Homo sapiens: one gene and its partners. The protein of the gene in region 2 purifies or fractionates together with the protein of the main gene of each other region. This does not show direct contact. Each region holds a gene or a part of one and is shown on either strand. Other genes may lie near its edges.

Region 1 (6,406 bases), on a different chromosome or scaffold from region 2:
TTCGAAAGGAGGCCGCCAAAAATAAAAGGCAAAGAGACGGGATCGGCTGCAGCGGTTTCCCAAAGGAGGAGGGAGTGTGCATCGGTCTGGTAACAAACAGAGAATGTTTTTTAATTATTTATATCACAAAAATCTGTGTTTTATCTAGGATATTTTCTGAATATTCTTTGTAAAATGCAGATTTTTTTCCACAAAACAGTAGGATTCTTTGTTATATTCTTAAAATTGTTTGTTTAAGTAGGTAAAAATATACATTCAGCTGAAAGCATTACACTAACATTTACATTTTAAGCCTTAGGAGGTTATTCAGCCCAATTCCCAGCAGTAGAGAGAATACTAAACTTGTGTCTCAAGGTTTCATGGTTTTCCCACGTTCTTTGGCTATTAATTTAATTTCCCAGGTCACGTAGACAATCATTGATAATTGAAACAAGTCCTGAGTTGAAATAACCTTGAGTTGAGCAAAAATATCCTCATTTTGGCAGAAGCTGGGCTTGGTAGTACAGTAAAATTTTAGTGTAATGTGCTCTTGTAATTGAAAGGGGATAGATAATCTGGATGTTTCTGCAAAGGAAAATAGGTGTGTACTTAACAGCTTTGGCTCTACTCAGTTTCTTAAAAAGATAAGAGCAAAAAAAGTTAAATGTTAATCAAAACATTTAAGTTTCCTTTAAATTGTAGTAATAAAATATATGAAGCTCCTTTTTTTACTTTGCTCTGTGACTGGTTTAAAGGTAAGTTTGTTATGTTGTTGGTAGATTTTGCCAGGCTTCTCCCAACAGAGTAGAAGTGATTTGGCCTCATAACTTCACAGTGGTTTACCACTTTGTTCTATGTTCTGGTTTTGTAAAGGATAGTACTGGAATTTGCGTCTGAAGACCAATATTGGTGTAACTCCTGTCAGTATATTGGTAAAATGTAGCAGAGGCAGGAGTTTGGATGTTTGGATGGGATTCCCTTAGGATTCTACAGCCAATAAAGATCCTATTTCCTATGCATGTCCCAGGAATCAGTAATCCTCTTTTACTCTGTTGGGATGAGTCTTTTTTTGTTTCTGTTCAGAGTGGTTACTAACTTCACCTTCTTTCCTCTTGCTGTCATCTGCATTCGTGCTTCCCACCTGTTGTTGGCATGTCCTTTACCTTCTCTTTCCCTGCCACATCAACCTACACACTGACTCATCATTGACGTGGAAGATGTGGAAGATGTCAAGTTTGTGATCAACTATGACTATCCAAACAGCTCAGAGGATTATGTGCACCGTATTGGCCGAACAGCCCGTAGCACCAACAAGGGTACCGCCTATACCTTCTTCACCCCAGGGAACCTAAAACAGGCCAGAGAGCTTATCAAAGTGCTGGAAGAGGCCAATCAGGCTATCAATCCAAAACTGATGCAGCTTGTGGACCACAGAGGAGGCGGCGGAGGCGGGGGTAAGGGTAAGTCCTGGAGTTTTCCAGGTACTGCCAAGGTATCTCTTTACGCCTTCTGTGACTTGCTTTTAGTTGCTGTTTTTAAGAAGGCTGTAAGTATGTTGCTTAATAGCAAAGGACACTGCCTAATGCTTTTTATAACCTTTTTCAACTAAGAAAACGTGAAGTTTGTTGTGATAGTCCTATTAGTTAAGCTAAATTGTGAATTTTTTTTTCTTAGAGACTGGTCTGAGGTTTGGTTTTGTTTGTTTGTTTGTTTTGAGACGGAGTCTTGCTCTGTCGCCCAGGCTGAAGTGCAATGGCGCGATCTCAGCTCATTGCAACCTCTGCCTCCCAGGTTCAAGTGATTCTCCTGCCTCAGCCTCCCAAGTAGCTGGGATTACAGGCACCCGCCAGCACACCCTGCTAATTTTTGTATTTTTAGTAGAGGTGGAGTTTCACCATGTTGGCCTGGCTGGTCTCGAACTCCTGACCTCTGGTGATCCACCTGTCTTGGCCTCCCAAAGTGCTGAGATTACAGGAGTGAGCCACCAAACCTAGCTGAGGCTGGTCTGTGGAGTTTCACCATGTTGGCCTGGCTGGTCTCGAACTCCTGACCTCTGGTGATCCACCTGTCTTGGCCTCCCAAAGTGCTGAGATTACAGGAGTGAGCCACCAAACCTAGCTGAGGCTGGTCTGAGTTTTAATGTGGTTGCTTTGGCGGGGCGGGGGCAGAGACAGTCTCACTCTGTTGCCCAGACTGGAGTGCAGTGGCACGATCTCGGCTCACTTCAACCTCTGCCTCCTGGGTTCAAGTGATTCTCCTGCTTCAGCCTCCCAAGTAGCTGGTACTACAGGTATGTGCCACCATGTCCAGCTAATTTTTGTATTTTTTGTAGAGACAGGGTTTCACCATGTTGGCTGGTCTTGAACTGCTGACCTCAAGTGACCCTCCTGCCTTGATCTCCCAAAGTGCTGGGATTACGAGAGTGAGCCAGTGTGCCCCCGGTCATGGTTGCTTTTTTAATACTTTCAAAAATGCTTAGTAGTATATTAGGTTTCCAGTTTTCCATACGGAGAGGTCAGTCATTTTACACTGTTTAGTGGTGGGTAGAAACTGAGACATAGCAGTTGCATCTACAGTTGCAGAATATCCTAGGATCTGGGCTTCCTGACTCAAGGTTTCATATTGTAATACCGTGTTTCTTGATCATCCTCAAGTAAGGGGCCTAAAAGGGTGAAAAGGTCTAGTGTCCTTTAATTTTTACTGTGCTTTTGAATGTGCCCCATTAAAGAATCAAATTATGAGTATATTTTTACAGTACTAATTGGGAGGCTGGCCAGCATAACTAAATATCAAGGAGACATGTTTAATACTTTTGTACCCAGTAGAATTTTTACATTGTTATGTTTAGGTCCTATATCTGCCATTAAAAATCTTCTTGTATCTTCCCATTAGGTGGTCGTTCTCGTTACCGGACCACTTCTTCAGCCAACAATCCCAATCTGATGTATCAGGATGAGTGTGACCGAAGGCTTCGAGGAGTCAAGGATGGTGGCCGGAGAGACTCTGCAAGCTATCGGGATCGTAGTGAAACCGATAGAGCTGGTTATGCTAATGGCAGTGGCTATGGAAGTCCAAATTCTGCCTTTGGAGCACAAGCAGGCCAATACACCTATGGTCAAGGCACCTATGGGGCAGCTGCTTATGGCACCAGTAGCTATACAGCTCAAGAATATGGTGCTGGCACTTATGGAGCTAGTAGCACCACCTCAACTGGGAGAAGTTCACAGAGCTCTAGCCAGCAGTTTAGTGGGATAGGCCGGTCTGGGCAGCAGCCACAGCCACTGATGTCACAACAGTTTGCACAGCCTCCGGGAGCTACCAATATGATAGGTTACATGGGGCAGACTGCCTACCAATACCCTCCTCCTCCTCCCCCTCCTCCTCCTTCACGTAAATGAAACCACTCAAGTGGTAGTGACTCCAGCAGACTTAATTACATTTTAAGGAACACTGTCTTTCCTTTTTTTTTCCTCTTCGCCTTTTCTTTTTTTTTCCTTTTTTCTTTTTTTTTTTTTAATTTTTCCCCCCAACCATCGTGATTTGTCTTTTCATGCAGATTAGTTAGAATTCACTGCCAGGTTTCTTCTGCCCACCAAAATGATCCAGTCTGGAATAACATTTTGTAAAAAAAAAAAAAATATATATATATATATATAGCTGACTGGAAGAGATTAATTTCTTCCCCCAACTTCTTGCATGTTGAAGATATTTGAGCTATTTTTCATCTAAAAGAGTAAGGTATTAGGCCCTTTTGTGGGAGCCCCATGTTTTGTTTTTCTGAGTTGGTGGGGAGGGAGGGAGGGGGAGGGCTGAATTGTTTTGCAGAGGAAGATGGCATCTGTGCTTTAAATTTCTCATTACTGGGTTAGAAAACAAAGAGGGATTGCCCTGCACATTTTCTTTTGTGCTTTTAAATGTTTCTTAAGTTGGAACAGGTTTCCTCGGGCCTGTTTTGACTGATTGCTGGAGTGCATTTGATAGTTAAAAATTACTAATTGGTTTTATTTCCCTTCACACTCTGCCTCCCCACTTCTCCCCCCGTTACTGAAAAATAACCATTTTAGTGTCAGGCTAGAAATTGAATTGCTGAGTTTTGTGTATCCTTTAAATTAAAAACCACAAGTGTTTATTGTAGTGGTTAAACTGTAGCATCTCAGCATCTGGGTGGAAGCTGCCTATATTTCTTCCCAGTTTAACTGGGGACCATCTGTGAAATTAATTTTCCATCCAGACAGCTGCTGTGAGCAAATGAACATAAATGCTCGCTGGAAATTTACTAACCAGTTTTTATATTGACCTGCAGTGTAAAAAGCACATTTAATTATAAACAATATATTCAAAATGGGCAAATTTTATTTTCAAATGCAGTGTAGAGCTAGATTAAAAGCAACTCTTTGCCACCTACTCTGCCCTTTTGGCAAAGTTACCTTGAACAAAGAATCTTAAGGGTTTATTAAGAACTCTTTATTTTCTTCATACCCTGTTCTCTGCAGTGCTTTCTAACAGCTTCTGGGTGCAGATTTTCTTCGGCATCCTTTTGCACTCAGCTTATTACAGGTAGGTAGTGCTTAAGAAAAGTCATGGAGGACTAAAGCCTAAGTCCTTTTCACTTTTCCTCCATCTGAAGGTAGGTGAGTTCATCCTCTTCATGGTAATGCTGTTTTACCAAGACTTTATAGCAGATGGACCCAGAAAGAATTTTCTGCTATTGTGTTCACTACAACAGGATAGGGACATCAGACAGCCCCAGAAACCCCTTCCAGATCTGATATGGGACTATTAATTTTTATGCTGTTAATTGGTATTCATTCACAATGCAGTTGAAGGGGGAAGGCTCCACTGCATTCTTTGGCTAAGGCCTGAATGCTTGCTCATCTGTAAGATCTATACTCGAGGTTTTGTTTTCCTTTTAAAATTCTTTAGGGAGAGAGGGATGGTTTCTGAGGGGTTCTGAAAGTATGATTCAATGTGCAACATACAGGTAGGTCTTCAGCATAAGCTGAAATATATGCATGTAAAAACTTTGACATCTTTTTTTTTAATTTTCCACTTTCTTCTTAACTTTACTTCTCTTTTTGTCCCCCCCCCATCTTACAGAAGTTGAGGCCAAGGGAGAATGGTAGGCACAGAAGAAACATGGCAAACTGCTCTGTGCTTTCAAACCAAAGTGTTCCCCCCAACCCCAAATTTGTCTAAGCACTGGCCAGTCTGTTGTGGGCATTGTTTTCTACAACCAAATTCTGGGTTTTTTTCTTCTTTCTTTAAACATAGAGGTACCACCACAAGGGATGCCCTACTCTCTCGCAGCTCTTGAAAGCATCTGTTTGAGGGAAAGGTCTCTGGGCAAGCAAGTGGTTATTTGGATTGCTTGCTTCCCTTTTTCCACCTGGGACATTGTAATCATAAAATAACAGTAAATTCCAAACCTCAAAAACTATTATGGCCTGAGCACAGCTGAAATCTAGCAGAGTTTAACTCTTCTGCCTCCATGTCTGTCACTTATAATTCAGGTTCTGCTGTTGGCTTCAGAACATGAGCAGAAGAATCGTTTTATGCTAGTTATTGCATTCATGGTTGAAACTCAACTTAGGGAAAGGGTTCCAATGTATTAAGCAATGGGCTGCTTCTCCCCAATCCTCCCTAACAATTCGTTGTGTGGACTTCTCATCTAAAAGGTTAGTGGCTTTTGCTTGGGATCAGTGCTCTCTATTGATGTTCTTGCTGGTCTCCAGACACATTCCTGTTGCATTAAGACTTGAAAGACTTGTAGATGTGTGATGTTCAGGCACAGGATGCTGAAAGCTATGTTACTATTCTTAGTTTGTAAATTGTCCTTTTGATACCATCATCTTGTTTTCTTTTTGTAGGTATAAATAAAAACACTGTTGACAATAAGGTGTGAGCTTTTATTGCTTAATTCTCTGAATAATTCAACGTAGACGTCTTAAAACAGTTTTTGTTTCAAGACAAAGATGGGGGATATTGGATTGACTGATTACTTTCGCACCTAAAACTGAAAGGAAAAAACTTAATACAAGAATTGGAATTGAAAACCCTAGCAGGATACCTAGTAGGTAAGGGTTTGGATATATCTGTATCTGCTCATAAGTAAAACAGTGATTGTGCAAATGGTACTCGCCTAAGTACCATTAGGTTATTGGTATTAAGGTACTAAGTACAAGGCAGGTATCAGCCACTGGTTTGAAAAAATTCAAACCAGTAAAAGATGAGTCACAAAACTCCTCCAGCCAAACCTGGTAAATTTGGTTTGCTTCTGGCCTGAAGGCAGTGTGAAAGTGAAATAAGTTTCACACTTAAAACTAGCTGACACCTTTATATCTTGACCACCTAAATTTGGTCATCTACCTGGAAAGTGGAAATTCACAAGAACGTACCCTAATATTTTAACTGGTCTTTAGTTGGGACA
Region 2 (7,032 bases):
ACAATGGCATACTAAGTTGTTTCATGGTCCCTGCCACAACAGCAGGTTACAAAACGTGACAATTCAGTGCAAAGGATGCTACTTACTGAATCTTTAAATAGAAAAGCTACCAAAAATATCAACAAATGACCATTATTAATATTAACTGAGTTTGGCACTAGCATATTAGTGCTAGGAGTCACCTGTGCACCCTCTCTTCCCTCTCCCCAGCATGTTAAAAAATATATAAATAGCTTAAGTAAGCCTCTTTGCATTTTTCAGAACTAGAAGCCCTAATTTATGCAGTGTTAAAAATAAATTCTGAGTCTAAAAAAACCATTAAAAAACTATTACTTATTTTGCCTTGGAACACACTGGATGCTAAAAAATTTTTCACCAAGAACCAATCTCTAAAAGAAACCCTATGCAAAATCTGGAGTATCAAGTGGGTGTGCTAGCATCTCTGCTACAAGGGGAACAGCATGCTGGCACAGCTCTTCTGTGACTCCTACATATTATACCTCTGTCTACAAATTACAGAGCTGCTCACTCATCATGAGCCATCATGACTGCTTCATAATTCCTCTAAGAACAAGAAGCAGAAACAAGTTAAGGTTCTCAATTCCATATGTCCCAAAGGGACTCATTTACCTTCTATAGGCAAAGTGGTCCAACAGCAGTGCAGACAGCAGCATGATGGGAAATAGCCCATAAAAACAAAAATAAAGCACAATTATAACACTACACAGTGGATAAGTACAAGTCAAATAAATGTGATGTAGACAATCTCAATCTTCCCTCCCCACAAAACATCAACTTGAGAACGTTTGAACTGACAACTGGAAAGTGAAGGCCTTTTGACCCTAAAAGGTCAATTAAAGCAGCTAAGTTTGACTAGCAAAAACATGAAGTTTGCTCTGAGTCCCAGGCAAGGACTGTGTAGTGCTCTCCTCTTTCCTCATTTAAGTACTTTCTTTGTTTTTTGTTTTGTTTTGTTTTTTGAGATGCAGTCTTATTCTGTTGTCCAGGCTGGAGTGCAGTGGTGCAATCTCGGCTCACTGCAACCTCCGTCTCCTGAGTTCAAGCGATTCTCCAGCCTCCGCCTCCCAAGCTGGAACTACAGGCTACAGGCATGCGTCACCATGCCGGCTAATCTTTGTATTGTTAGTAGAGACGGGGTTTTGCCATGTTGGCCAGGCTGGTCTCGAACTCCTGACCTAAGTGATCTGCCTGCCTTGGCCTCCCAAAGTGCTGGGATTACAGGCATGGGCCACTACCCCCAGCTTTTTTTTTTTTTTTTTTTAAGTTTGAAGTTAGGATGAGGAAAAAGAAAGATGAAAGATAGTCCTGGCTTTCAAGCCTGCAAATTCTATGTTTCTAACTTGTTACTTCTCCAGGAAAACTACACCATAAATTTGGAAAATAAAGGTCACCTCAAAATTTAGTAAATTCACATCATATATGACTGCAATTAGTAAGGGGAAAAAAGTCAGTGGTTTTTTATGTTGATGAGACCACTGTTCTTTTATTCTAAAAGAAAGAACTTCAGTGATACGGCATAGAGAAAAGGGTAGCGTTAGGCACAATAGAGGCTATCAGGTCTGAAACTTCCAAAACAGCACAAGAGAAAATGTGCCCTGACTCCTTACACAAAAAACAAGCTCTATGCCAAGATTTAAGGAAGAACAAGGAGATGGGGAAAGCCACTGCACCTCTAAATGAAAACAAATGGATGTTCACCCACTGCCACCCTCCACTGAGACGACACACAATTTGGGAAATGGATAGTTCCATCTCACTACCAGACACAGAAGCACAAATACATACACAGGTGTACTTACTCATATCACTACAACTACAGAAAGACACATATCCTATGAAACCCTCATGTTAAGCAACAAGAACAATACAAACCTCATTTCCTTTAGTCCTTCTGCCTCTATGACCTGCAGAATCTGTTTTGGTGTCATTGGAGCATCCGAGTAGTTTTCTAATACCTGAAGAAATATAAACGTCCTAATTTCAGTGTGCAATTTCCATTTATATCCATCCATCCATATATCATGGGCTAAAGTTATGCTATGAGGTACCGCTGGTGACAACTTAGTTTTTCCACAGTTAAAATTACTTCAGAAATCAAATTACACATATATCTAGTTACTGAAAAGTTACTGCAATTAACTGAAATGTTCTAATTCTCAATTCTAAGGATGCATATCTTCTCAGCATACATGGTATAGTATGCGAGACCTTAGCAACACTGGTTACTGTTCAGCTTGATGCTGTTAATACTGCTAAACCACAGAATATATAGTGCTGCACAAGAAATGTATGACACAGAAATGCATTCACATTTTCTTTCCCAAGGAAGTTTGATTAGTATATATATATACACACACACACTAATTTTTGTATTTTAGTAGAGACTAGAGCTAGTCTCGAACTCCTGACCTCAGGTGATCTGCCCGCCTCAGCCTCCTAAAGTGCTGGGATTATAGAAGTGAGCCACCACGCCTGGCCAAGTACCCATATTTTTAAACGGTGCTTTCTGCCACTGTGTTGTTAATTTGTGGTGTTAACTGCCACAGTACGTTCTGCCATCTGGCACATGATGCTATGATTCTGCATGACTGGTGCAATGAGAAACAGAATATCCCATTTATGTTAGCATCACCTATAACCAAGTCATGGCAGTATTGCAGTATTTTCTTAGTGTGCAACTGCAGCTCTCTTGCTTTAAGAGTTGTTTTAGATATGTTATTCTTCTAAAGGAAGAAAAAAGCTGTCAATATCTTTGTACTTTGTCTACCTGTGCAGCTACTCAGGGTACTCCAAATCAAGCTAACATCTTACAGTCCATTTAACTGCCATAGCCAAGTACTGCTGTCACAAGCAAAACATAAAGAAGTCTGATACGATGCTGCTGTCTACAGCCATACCACCCTGAATGTGCCCGATCTCGTCTGATAGGTCTGCTGCGGAAGGTACTCTCTATGGAAGAACATAAGACCTCAGCACCAAAGTCAAGGTTTGGAGAAGGTACTAAAATAAAACCCCTATTTCCCATGGTCCTATTCTTTGCTTCTCTTTTCAGATTTTCCATTCTCCATGGGTAACATTATCATCTCAGTTTCAGCTACTACCTAAATTCTGATAACTACCTAATCTCTACCTCTAGCTCTGACTTCTCCCCCAAATTTCAGATTCAAATATTCAGTTGTGTACTGACTATACCCCTTCATTATCTACTCTAATTCAGCTCTACTCTTAATTCATCTAATTGGCAACTCTAATTCACCTCTTCTCCAGACCCACTCTTCTTCCTGTATTCCCTACCTTGATTGACAGCCTGTATAATCACCTAATTCAGAAACGCAGGTGTCATCTTTCTCGCTCATCTGTCCGCCAAGTCCCAAAACCAGTCTCTTACCTGACCCAACACAACAGCCTCTTAATATTTATCCCTCCATCCAGTCCTGCTTTCCTCAAATCCATTCTGACTCTGTTGTCATCCTTCATTCAACAAACACATGGAACACGTACCTTGTGCCAGACACAATTCTAGGGATTCACAGTAAACAAGACCAAATCCCTGCTCTGGTAGAACTTACATGTTATAGACTGAGGTCAACCCAGCAAAGCAAACCTGCCCTCATCACTTTCAGCTCTAAAATCCTTCAACAGGCCAGGCACGGTGGTGCACACCTATAGTCTCAGCTGAGACTGAGGCAGGAGGGTCACTTGCTGCGCTCAGGAGCTCCAGGCTCTAGTGCACTATGATCGTGCCTGTGTATAGCCACTGCACTCCAGCCTGGGTAACACAGTGAAACCTCATCTCTTTAAAGAATTTAAAAAATATATATGGCTGGGTAAAGTGGGTCACACCTGTAATCCCAGCACTTTGGGAGGCCAAGGTGGGCAGATTGCTTGAGCCTAGGAGTTCAAAACCAGCCTGGGCGACATGGTGAAACCCTGTCTCTACAAAAAAATACAAAAAACTAGATGGGCATGGTGGCTCATGCCCGTAATCCCAGCTACACAGGAGGCTGAGGTGGGAGAATCATCTGAGCCCAGGAAGTGGAAGCTGCAGTGAGCTGTGATGGCACCACTGCACTTCAGCCAGGGTGACAGAGTGAGACCCTGTCTCAAAAAATAGTAATAATAATAATAGAAAGCAAATAAAATCCTTCAACAGCTCCTTAATCACATACTGCAAAAGCTGAAGCTTCCAAAGTCCACTGGCCCACCGGTAAAGAACAGGATCTAGAGTTAGATTCAAATTTTTACATTCTAAACTGGGGCAATTACAACCCAACCTGAACCTAGGTTCTCTTTTGAAGGATACTGATGTCTTCCTCTCGAGTTGTTGGACAGATTAGAGACAATGTAAGTAATGCCTACAATGTCTGGCACAGAGTAGGTGCTCACTGGCCTGGCATATGGAACCCTCACAATCTGGTCTCTGCCTCTCTACCCATCCACAGTGACACTCTACAAACTTTATGTTCCAATAATTTGTAGATATACCTAATTCCCACACGTTGCAAATACACACACTCCCTCTCACCCACTCTGACTCTTTCTCTCCTGCTATGTGTTGTCACCAGCTCCTGCTTATGCCCTCTGTGATTGGCCTAACTCCTAGTTACCCTTCAAGATTCAGCTCAGAAAGCACCTTCCTCCAGGAAGCCTTCCCTGATCTCTGCCAGGCAGAGGTAAATGTCTCTTTTCAATGTTCCCATTGTTTCATAACACATACAATTATCTTCCAAACCAGGACAGTTGAGAGTGAAAGGAGAAACTATGACTAGACAAGAGGCAGCAACTGGGATATCTGTTTATGATTTATACAACTATGATAACACGTATCATGACTGTAGTAAAATTCTGTTCCTGCGTCTGGACCTTCTTCATCCCCAGAAGACCATAAGCCCTGAGGGGCAAACCTTATCCACCTCTGTATTCCAAGAACCTAAGTGCCAAGATGGGCAGTACTGACTTGAACAAACCTACAATAAACCCTGGAACAAGCTACTAATGTTCACTGCCACAGATAACATTTCTTTGATACTAATTAAATGAAAGCTGAGCTGGCGAATTTTTATATCTTTTTTTTTTAAGAAGCATGACTCAAATAGTAACTACCAATTATTTAAACAGCAATCAGAAATAGCCTGAGAATTTAAGACAGGGGAAACAGAATCTCTAAAGGGAAGTTACATCAAAAGATACAAAGTATTCTTTTTTATTAAAACTGTTTATGCCTCCAGCTCTTGGTATAAGAACAAGTCAGCAGTGTTCTATTCCTAGTCTCTTTCTAGACTACATTTTTTTTTTTAAGTATCTCTTCTCTTACTTCAAAGGGGAAAAAAATGTTTGATGTAAGAACTGGTCAGTCATGAATCAAAGTAAAAGATAAAGCATACAACAAAGAGTTTCTCGAAGCCAGGGAGAATCCATTTAGCGTCCTCGATTTAAAGGGAAATCCCCTTGGCTATTTCTCCCAAACAAACTGTTTATAACAAGTTGGAGGATTTATATCCACTCAACCACATAAGGTCTACTTCTTACACCTAGAAAAGACAATACTACAAAATGTGTGAAAGAAAGACTATTTTTCAACAGCATAATTAACATCTGCAAAAATCAATCTCCTGGGGTACACTATACTGAAATTCTTAAGAATCTTCTTTCCTCTACGAAAGGTTTTTTTGTTGTTGTTGTTTTGTTTGTTTGTTTTTGAGACAGAGTCTTGCTCTGTCGCCCAGGCTGGATGGAGTGCAGTAGCTCGATCTCGGCTCACTGCAAGCTCCGCCTCCCGCGTTCACGCCATTCTCCGGCCTCAGCCTCCCGAGTAGCTGGGACTACAGGCACTCGCCACCACGCCTGGCTAATTTTTTGTATTTTTAGTAGAGATGGGGTTTCACCGTGTTAGCCAGGATGGTCTCGATCTCCTGACCTCGTGATCCGCCCGCCTCGGCCTCCCAAAGTGCTGGGATTACAGGCGTGAGCCACCGCGCACAGCCTACAAAAACAATTTTTAAAAGGATTCCCAGTAACACTCTAGTCACCAATCTGAGTGGGGTCAGGAGCAATCTGAAAGCGTTCCCATGGAAGTGCATACAATTGCCATTGCAAGCACTCCAAATTCACCTGCCCAAAGAGAAGTGTTCAGGTGTTCTAATCAACTGTCCTACGTTCCCTCCTAGTCAAGTTTCTCTCAGTCCAGTGTACGCTCTCACAAATTCTCCAGTACAGTGTTACAGCAACTTTTTTTAAACATTAAGAGGACTGGTTTTTTCTTTTGTTTTGTTTTTGAGACAGAGTCTCACTGTCGCCGCTGGAGTGCAGTGGTGTGATCTGGGTTCACTGCAACCTCCACCTCCCGAGTTCAAGTGATTCTCCTGCCTCAGCCTCCCGAGTAGCTGAGGTTACAGGCATGCACCATCACCATGCCTGGCTAATTTTTGTATTTTTAGTAGAGACGGGGTTTCACCATGTTGGCCAGGCTGGTCTCGAACTTCTGGCCTCAGGTGATCCGTCTGCCTCGGCCTCCCAAAGAGCTGGGATTACAGGCGTGAGCCACCGTGCCCGGCCTGGGACTCTTAAAAAGTTCCCCCTCACCTACCATCCAGTCCCATTCAAAGAAATGGAAAATTCTAAAACAAAAAACACACACAAGATACTCAAATTGCATATCACATTCTCAACAAGTCCTTTTTCTTTTTTTCTTTTTTTTTTTTTTTTGAGACGAGTCTTGCTCTGTCACCCAGGCTGGACAGTGGCATGGCCTTGGCTCTCTGCAACCTCCACCTCCCAAGTTCAAGTGATTCTCCTGTCTCAGCCCCCTCAGTAGCTGGGATTACAGGCGTGCACCACCACACCCGGCTAATTTTTGTATTTTTAGTAGAGACTGGGTTTTACCTTGTTGGCCAAGCTGGTCTAGAACTCCTGACCCTGTGATCCACCCACCTCGGCGTCCCAAAGTGCTGGGATTACAGGCGTGAGCCACAGCGCCCAGCCTCATTATTTTTTTAGAGTCAGGGTCTCCCT
Region 3 (7,032 bases), on a different chromosome or scaffold from region 2:
ACATCATGGTCACCATCCGCCCCCATGTCTTGACTCCTTTTGTAGAAGAATGTCTAGTAGCTGTAAGTTGTAACTTGCCCTAATGAAGTGGTTTAACTCAGTAAATAAGGAATTATAAAAACAATTCTTATAAGTTATGTAGTGTTTTTTTTCTGTTGCAAACACTAACATTTTAATGTGATCACATACATTACTAAACTCAAACAAAGAGTGTGTTTTGGCTAGTTTTAGTGGGTAGGTTAATTTGTTGTCTGGGTAATACGGAATATCTTCGAGAAATACATTAGCTTTTTAAAGATAAAAGGAAAAACAGATTTGTGATCTCATGTTAATTTTGTTTTAGATTTTGAAGTATATCAAGGGCTGATTTTTGCTAATCTTCTTAGATGCTCTAAGGCAAAAAAAAAAAAAAAATAGTGCACATGTATATCATTTGTTAGAGTAGTTAGCACAACAGAAACTCCAAACCTTAGATTCCCTTTCACCGTGTATGTGTCGAGGCCACAGAGTTACATGTGACAGCAGAGCCCTGCAGTTGTGTTTCATGGAGCCTCCCTCCTCCAGGTGTCAGCTGCTGTCCTTCCCTCATGGGCCCTGGGGATGTCCTGCAACATTCTGTGGTGGTGGTTCTTAAGACCTGCTCGTGGAGCACCAGAATCACCACTAAAAACTATTAAAACTACAGATTCTGAGATCTCTTCTAGGCCTATCATACACCATCTATAGGCGATGAGGTCTTAGAATCTAATTTTGTAAAGCTTCTGGGTGATTTTGGTAATAACTCAGTTTTAGGACCAATAGCCCGTGGTAACTCTCCTTTTGTTAATCCCAGGGAGAATACTGTTTTCACCATCATCTGGGTTTCCCACAGTGCTTACCATAGGCAGGAACTCAGAGTAGCCTTTCAGTTTCCTTTCTTCCCCCAAGTCCTTAGTTCTAGAGACATGGTATTCCAACGAGGCCTCTTCCATTCTGGCACTGTGTTAATCTAACTCCTTTTCTTGGGCGCCCCCTTCTCTACTCCATACTAAACTTTCATGTCAGCTATTTTAAATGATTACTAAGTGAAGATTTATGTGGTTGTTACCTTGTAAAGAAGTGCTTTCCTAATAAAAATATTTTGCCTTGCTAGGGAAGGATAGAATTTGAAACTCCAAACTGAAGTCTCATTCATAATGGACATTCTGTCTGTTTCCCTTGTCCCCTGTGAAGAAATATGGTTTCTTAAAAATTCTGATTATCAGAATTTTTACTAGTCTTAACCCCCCATGAAAGTATATGGCATCTCATAATTTTACCATAATATGCTTGTTTGCTAGAAATCCCACCAATGTAAAGTCTGTACCTAAATGATTATTTATTACTGGTTATAAGTAACTTGACAAGTCTTGATATTAATGTTACATTGACTACTTTTCATAGTATGTTTGCATTGATACAATACAGTTTTTCATGCATAAGCACACACATGTGTGCATATGTACTTATAGTTTTTGCATGTTTAAGCCTTTAAGATTTGCTCATTAGATGAAATAAACCAACTTATAAAACATTTCCAATTGAAATTTGAACTCTAAATTACTACTAGTCCTGTTATAATCCTACACATGTATTTATTTAGTTTTCTAGGAGTTGTGTATGGAGAGTACAAGTTCTGGTCATGATTAGTTGCAGTTGCTTCTAAAAATCATTTATAGCTTTTTTTTAATGCAAAAGAAAAATACTTATAGTCATTTCTTCTTGTACATGCATTTTTGATTACTTTCAAACTAGTTTTAGATGTATGTACTTCTGAATCATCTATAAATCTTTTGTATATTTTTCTTCTCTCTTGTTTTCAATTTATTTGAGGCTGCTGGAGGTACCACATCCCATCAAGTTAGTTTCTCCTATTTTAATGGATTTAATTCGCTCCTTAACAACATGGAACTCATTAGAAAGATCTATAGCACTCTGGCTGGCACCAGGAAAGATGTTGAAGTGACTAAGGGTGAGTGAGAATATATCTGAATTCTAGCCTGCAAGTATTGTGGTGTATTATTATTAGGGTGAAGAAGGCAACTAGTACTTTATTATTTTTCTATCCCATTGACACATATTAACTATATGATAACGTGTGTTTTTCATCCTTTGATCAGACAAACAAAAGCAAACAAAACAATCTTCACCAAGTTTTAAACAAACTGGGCCCAGCTTGGTGACTCACACCTGAAATCCCAGCAGTTTGGGAGGCCGAGGTGGGTGGATCACCTGAGATCAGGAGTTCGAGACCAGCCTGGCCAAGAGGGTGAAACCCTGTCTCTACTAAAAATACAAACATTAGTCGGGTGTGGTGGTGGGCACCTGTAATCCCAGCTACTTGGGAGGCTGAGGCAGAAGAATCGCTTGAACCTGGGAGGCGAAGGTTGCAGTGAGCCGAGATCACGCCACTGCACTCCAGCCTGGGCAACAAGAGCAAAATGCCATCTCAAAAATAAATAAATAAATAAATAAATAAACTGAAGACACCCTTTGAATAAGGAAAACATGTAAAGTTTCTTAAATATTTTCAAATCTTGCTACAGCTTGAGCTAAATTGGCAACCTCTAAGGAAGCCTTCAGGTGTATATGAGGAATTCCATAAAGTTGCATTGGTGACAGTGTAAGTTGGTCTGTAGGCTTGGGACAGGATATTATCAGCATTGTAATGGGATTAAGAAAAAAAATCAGAGCCGGTGCGGTGGCTCATGCCTGTAATCCCAGCACTTTGGGAGGCCGAGGCGGGCAGATCATGAGGTCAGGAGATTGAGACGATCCTGGCTAACACGGTGAAACCCCGTCTCTACTAAAAATGTATATATAAAAAAATTAGCAGGGCATGGTGGCACACACCTGTAGTTCCAGCTCCTTGGGAGGCTGAGGCAGGGGAATCGCTTGAACCCAAGAGTCGGAGGTTGTAGTGAACCGAGATTGCACCACTGCACTCCAGCCTGGGCAACAGAGCAAGACTCTGTCTCAAAAAAAAAAAAAAAAAAAATCAGAATTCCCTTAGGAATTCCACACCTTCATTAATATAACCACCTAAATTAATATAATTAATAATCCTAATTTAACCAGTTAATTAGATTAATATAACTTCCCCTCCTGGGACCTATGCATATGAAGTTTCATATATGATTCCTTATTTTCTCTGATTGGCAATTTGAATAACATCAGATGACCCCAAGCTTTTAAACTGTATATTCAAGAACATATTCTGCACACGCTTTCCAAATGGATGCAAGAACTGCAAAAATTCTTACCTTATTTGGATTGACTTGAATTCTACAACTGATGATAATAATAAAGTTTTGTGATGTTCACTCATTCCAGTGCCTTGAGTTAATGCTGAATTTAGTGGCTATTTCTTCTTGAATCTTTCCCTTTTAACTTTTCTTCCATACAGAGGAGTTTGTTCTGGCAGCTCAGAAATTTGGTCAGGTTACACCCATGGAAGTTGACATCTTGTTTCAGTTAGCAGATTTATATGAGCCAAGGGGGTAAGTTGGCTTTTTTTTTTTTTTTTTTGGAATTAGCTTAATAAAAGGAGGTTAGGAGGAGGGCAGCAATCAGGAGAAAAAGAAGCCAAACTGAAGGCTATACTGAAATATGAGAAATGAAAAAAGGGATGTTTTTAAATTTTATAATGTAAATTGTAATAAATTGGTATATTTGTTGCTTGTGTTTGTTTTTCCCCTACAGACGTATGACCTTAGCAGACATTGAACGGATTGCTCCTCTGGAAGAGGGAACTCTGCCCTTTAACTTGGCTGAGGCCCAGAGGCAGGTGAGCAAAGAGGAGCAAACTTGCATTCTGGGGTTTCCTTAGCAGGATACCCCAACCCTGTTCCACTTGCAGTTGCCTTTGCGGCATTGGTATCTGACTTAACCATTTTTCTGTTTTGCACCAAAACTCTCGATAAATTTTAAAGGCTGTAAAGAGAAATTGCTTAGAAATGGTGTGATAAACAGGTATTTGGCATTTGCTCATTTCTTGCTAAGGTGGAGTGATTTCCTAACTGCACCAGAAGCCTAATGCTCCGAAAACATGAAGGAGGTCTTTTCTCCTTTCTTGAAGTCTCATGTTGAGAGATGTAGCGAAAGAATCCCGTGTTGGTGTCACTGTGCCTGTCGGCAGCTGCACGTTGCTAAATGAAAGCCGTCTTTGCTCTGTGGAGCAGCCCTTCATCAGCGCATCGTCTAACTGCCATGCCTTCCGTTTTTCTGAATATCAAAATGAGATAATTTTGTTTAGTCTGGAGTTACAGTTTAAAGGCTTTCAGACCTATTTTCTCTGTGAAAGGATTCATAAGTTATATGGAAACAATTTTAGGAATGCTAAATTTTATTTTATGGTTAACAGAAACCAATCTCTTGAAGTTGTGGGAGTCAGAAACTTAAGACATGGAACTTTCTCCTTTAACTCTTACCCAGCTTTCTGTAGATCAGGATTAGAGAAGAAAAGCCTTCATAGCATGTGTTAGTAAAATAAATGGTGTTTGTAAAATAAATCCACTCACAGGCGAGTGTCGTTTTTAGAAAAATTTCTCCTTTTAGGCAGAGCCATCTCTGAATCCTGTGAGACTTCGCAGTTTCTGGCATGGAGCTCTGGGTTTGTACAGAGACGCCAGTGTGACCACAATGGGTTGCTGCAGGCTACACTTTTAGGACTGTCAGACCTTGAGCCAGGGCCCCCTTCTTTTAGCTCTTTCCCACCCAAATGCAGCGGTGAGTTTTGTGTGCAGCATGCAAGTCAAAGTAGTGGGTGTGTGCTCAGTAAATTCTAACGAGCACCTCTGGAAAACCAGCTGGCCTTGCTTAAAAGAGGAAGCCGATTTCTCTGAGTGCAGGAGAAATAACTATAATCACGTGTAGAGGTGGAAGCAACACTGCTCTCCCTTCCCTTTGATTTTTAACACTGCTTAGGAGATGATTATCTCTTCGTCTGTATGCCACCAGCTATTGTAGAAATTTGGGGATTAAGAGAAGCAGAGAAGTTTTTTTTAGATCCCTCCTACTCTTCAGCTGGCAGCGGCTTCCCACAATTTTTCCTTTAAGCTCTTTGCAGCTTTTGAGAGTTTATGATGGGTGCTTGTTGATACTGGCCATGAAAGGGTTAGACCAGATTGATGAGATTTATAGCAGGAAATGATTCGCTGCCGCTTAGAGGTTTAGAGCAATTCACAATGGCCTTACCTGGAATAGGCTTTTTACTGCATGAACCCTAGTGGGCCCGACAAATTCAAGCAAGGGAGGTCGTCCACCTGTGGGCACAGCGCTGCCTGTCCAGCACTGTGCAGCACTTGTAGCATTTATCCTGGACAGAGGAGTGAAGGAGCAGAGTTTTGTCTCATTTCAAGAACATGCTACAGTTCTGGCTTTGGAAAAGTTAAATAAAAGTCTAGGATTTCATTTGTCTTTTAGGAGAGGAATTAATGGTGGTGGTAGGTCCCTCCTCCCCCCACCCTCTATAATTTTCAGAGTATTTTCACTCATTATTTTGATGCCAGAACATTTCTAAGTATTGCATATTTATATCCCTGTAAATAAAATATTGCTTCTCTTTTGGATGCATCTGTCAAAATGAAGGTACTATTGATTTCCATCTATATAGGGCTACAGTTGGAAACAACTCATAGAATTTGCAAAAGAAATGTTTTGTATCTTAAAGAGGCATATTTCTATGTAAAGCTATTTTCAGTTAAGTGACTTTGAAGGAGATTCCAAATGATCTCATTGTATTAGAATTGTGTTACATTGACAGCAACTAAAATTCAGTGGGTTGATAGCTGGGGTTGCTGATTATTTTCATTGTTCACTGATTTTAATTATCATGGATTCTGAAAAACAAATTTTATTGAATGTATGTATTCATTCAACAGGTATTTATTAAGCACTGACTATATGTCACCCTCATTTGACAACTCTCTGTGACATAAAATTACTGTTTTATTTATGCAGACAGAGAAGTGCAGCACTCTGAAATGTTCTGGCATCAAAAACACTGTGAGGATAATAGGTCAAAAGAACCAGAAAACAATGACTGACTGACCTGAAGTATGAATTTAGAAAAGATGGACAAAAAAAGAGAAAAAGTAACGATCAACTGTAATACAGCCACCTAGTTTTAGCTACTGTAAATGTTTTGAGTATCTCTGGGTGGTAGGGAGGCAAAATATTAGTATTAATTTTATATGCATATATATGTAAACCTCTTACAAGCATTTTTAATAAAAAGTGACATCATTTTGTATATAGTCTTAAAAATTGTTTTTAAAAAAATTACCAGGAAATAGGTCAAACATTTAAATAGGTACAAAGAATCATATGACAAATACCTATCTACTTACCATGCTCTTTTTAGCCTATGTTTTCTTTTATAATTCCTTGTGAACATTTAATATCAAATATTCTTTTACAGTATCATTTTGAATGATAGGGTTTTGTTTTAAAGTTATTATTTTTAAAGGCTATAGTCCTCCGTTATTGGACATTTAGAATATTTCCCAAATTTTTGTTCTTTTTGTTTAAAGAGCAAAAATTTGGGAAATAATCGAAATTTCCAATAAGTACTACAAATGTTTTTTAAGTGCTACATTCTTGTAGCTTGTTACATGCATGATTATCTTCTATCCTAACTTTTTTCTTTTTGAGACGGAGTTTCACTCTTCTTGCCCAGGCTGGAGTGCAGTGGCGCGATCTTGGCTCACTGCAGCCTCCGCCTCCCAGGTTCAAGTGATTCTCCTGCCTCAGCCTCCCAAGTAGCTGAGATTACAGGCATGCGCCACCACGTCCGGCTAATTTTTTATTTTTAGAAGAGACGGGGTTTCTCCATGGTGGTCAGGCTGGTCTCGAACTCCTGACCTCAAGTGATCCACCCACCTCGGCCTCCCAAAGTGCTGGGATTACAGGTGTGAGCCACTGCACCCAGCCTATTCTAACTTCAGAGGTTATGTACATTTTAAGGGTTTGGGTGTATATTACTAAACATCTCTCTATTTATGCTTGCTTTAA

What was found. Proteins that work in one complex are often made in the same cells at the same time.
Region 1: the proteins of ASXL1 (region 2) and DDX17 purify together in Homo sapiens (affinity purification with western blotting; 2 studies listed by BioGRID, with this or other methods). This does not show direct contact.
Region 3: the proteins of ASXL1 (region 2) and SLC25A13 purify together in Homo sapiens (affinity purification with mass spectrometry, with the first as the bait; 2 studies listed by BioGRID). This does not show direct contact.

What each region holds. Positions count from the first base shown.
Region 1 is NC_000022.11:38,482,906-38,489,311, reverse strand, and holds the end of DDX17 (probable ATP-dependent RNA helicase DDX17 isoform 1 precursor), read left to right. Parts: intron 1-1,196; coding exon 1,197-1,433; coding exon of another isoform or gene 1,434-1,439; intron 1,440-2,871; coding exon 2,872-3,377; 3' UTR 3,378-5,874; downstream 5,875-6,406. UniProt on the Homo sapiens protein: As an RNA helicase, unwinds RNA and alters RNA structures through ATP binding and hydrolysis.
Region 2 is NC_000020.11:32,361,328-32,368,359, reverse strand, and holds part of ASXL1 (polycomb group protein ASXL1), read right to left. Parts: intron 1,977-7,032; coding exon 1,894-1,976; intron 634-1,893; coding exon 631-633; intron 1-630.
Region 3 is NC_000007.14:96,186,067-96,193,098, reverse strand, and holds part of SLC25A13 (electrogenic aspartate/glutamate antiporter SLC25A13, mitochondrial), read left to right. Parts: coding exon 1-62; intron 63-1,851; coding exon 1,852-1,990; intron 1,991-3,424; coding exon 3,425-3,518; intron 3,519-3,720; coding exon 3,721-3,805; intron 3,806-7,032. UniProt on the Homo sapiens protein: Mitochondrial electrogenic aspartate/glutamate antiporter that favors efflux of aspartate and entry of glutamate and proton within the mitochondria as part of the malate-aspartate shuttle.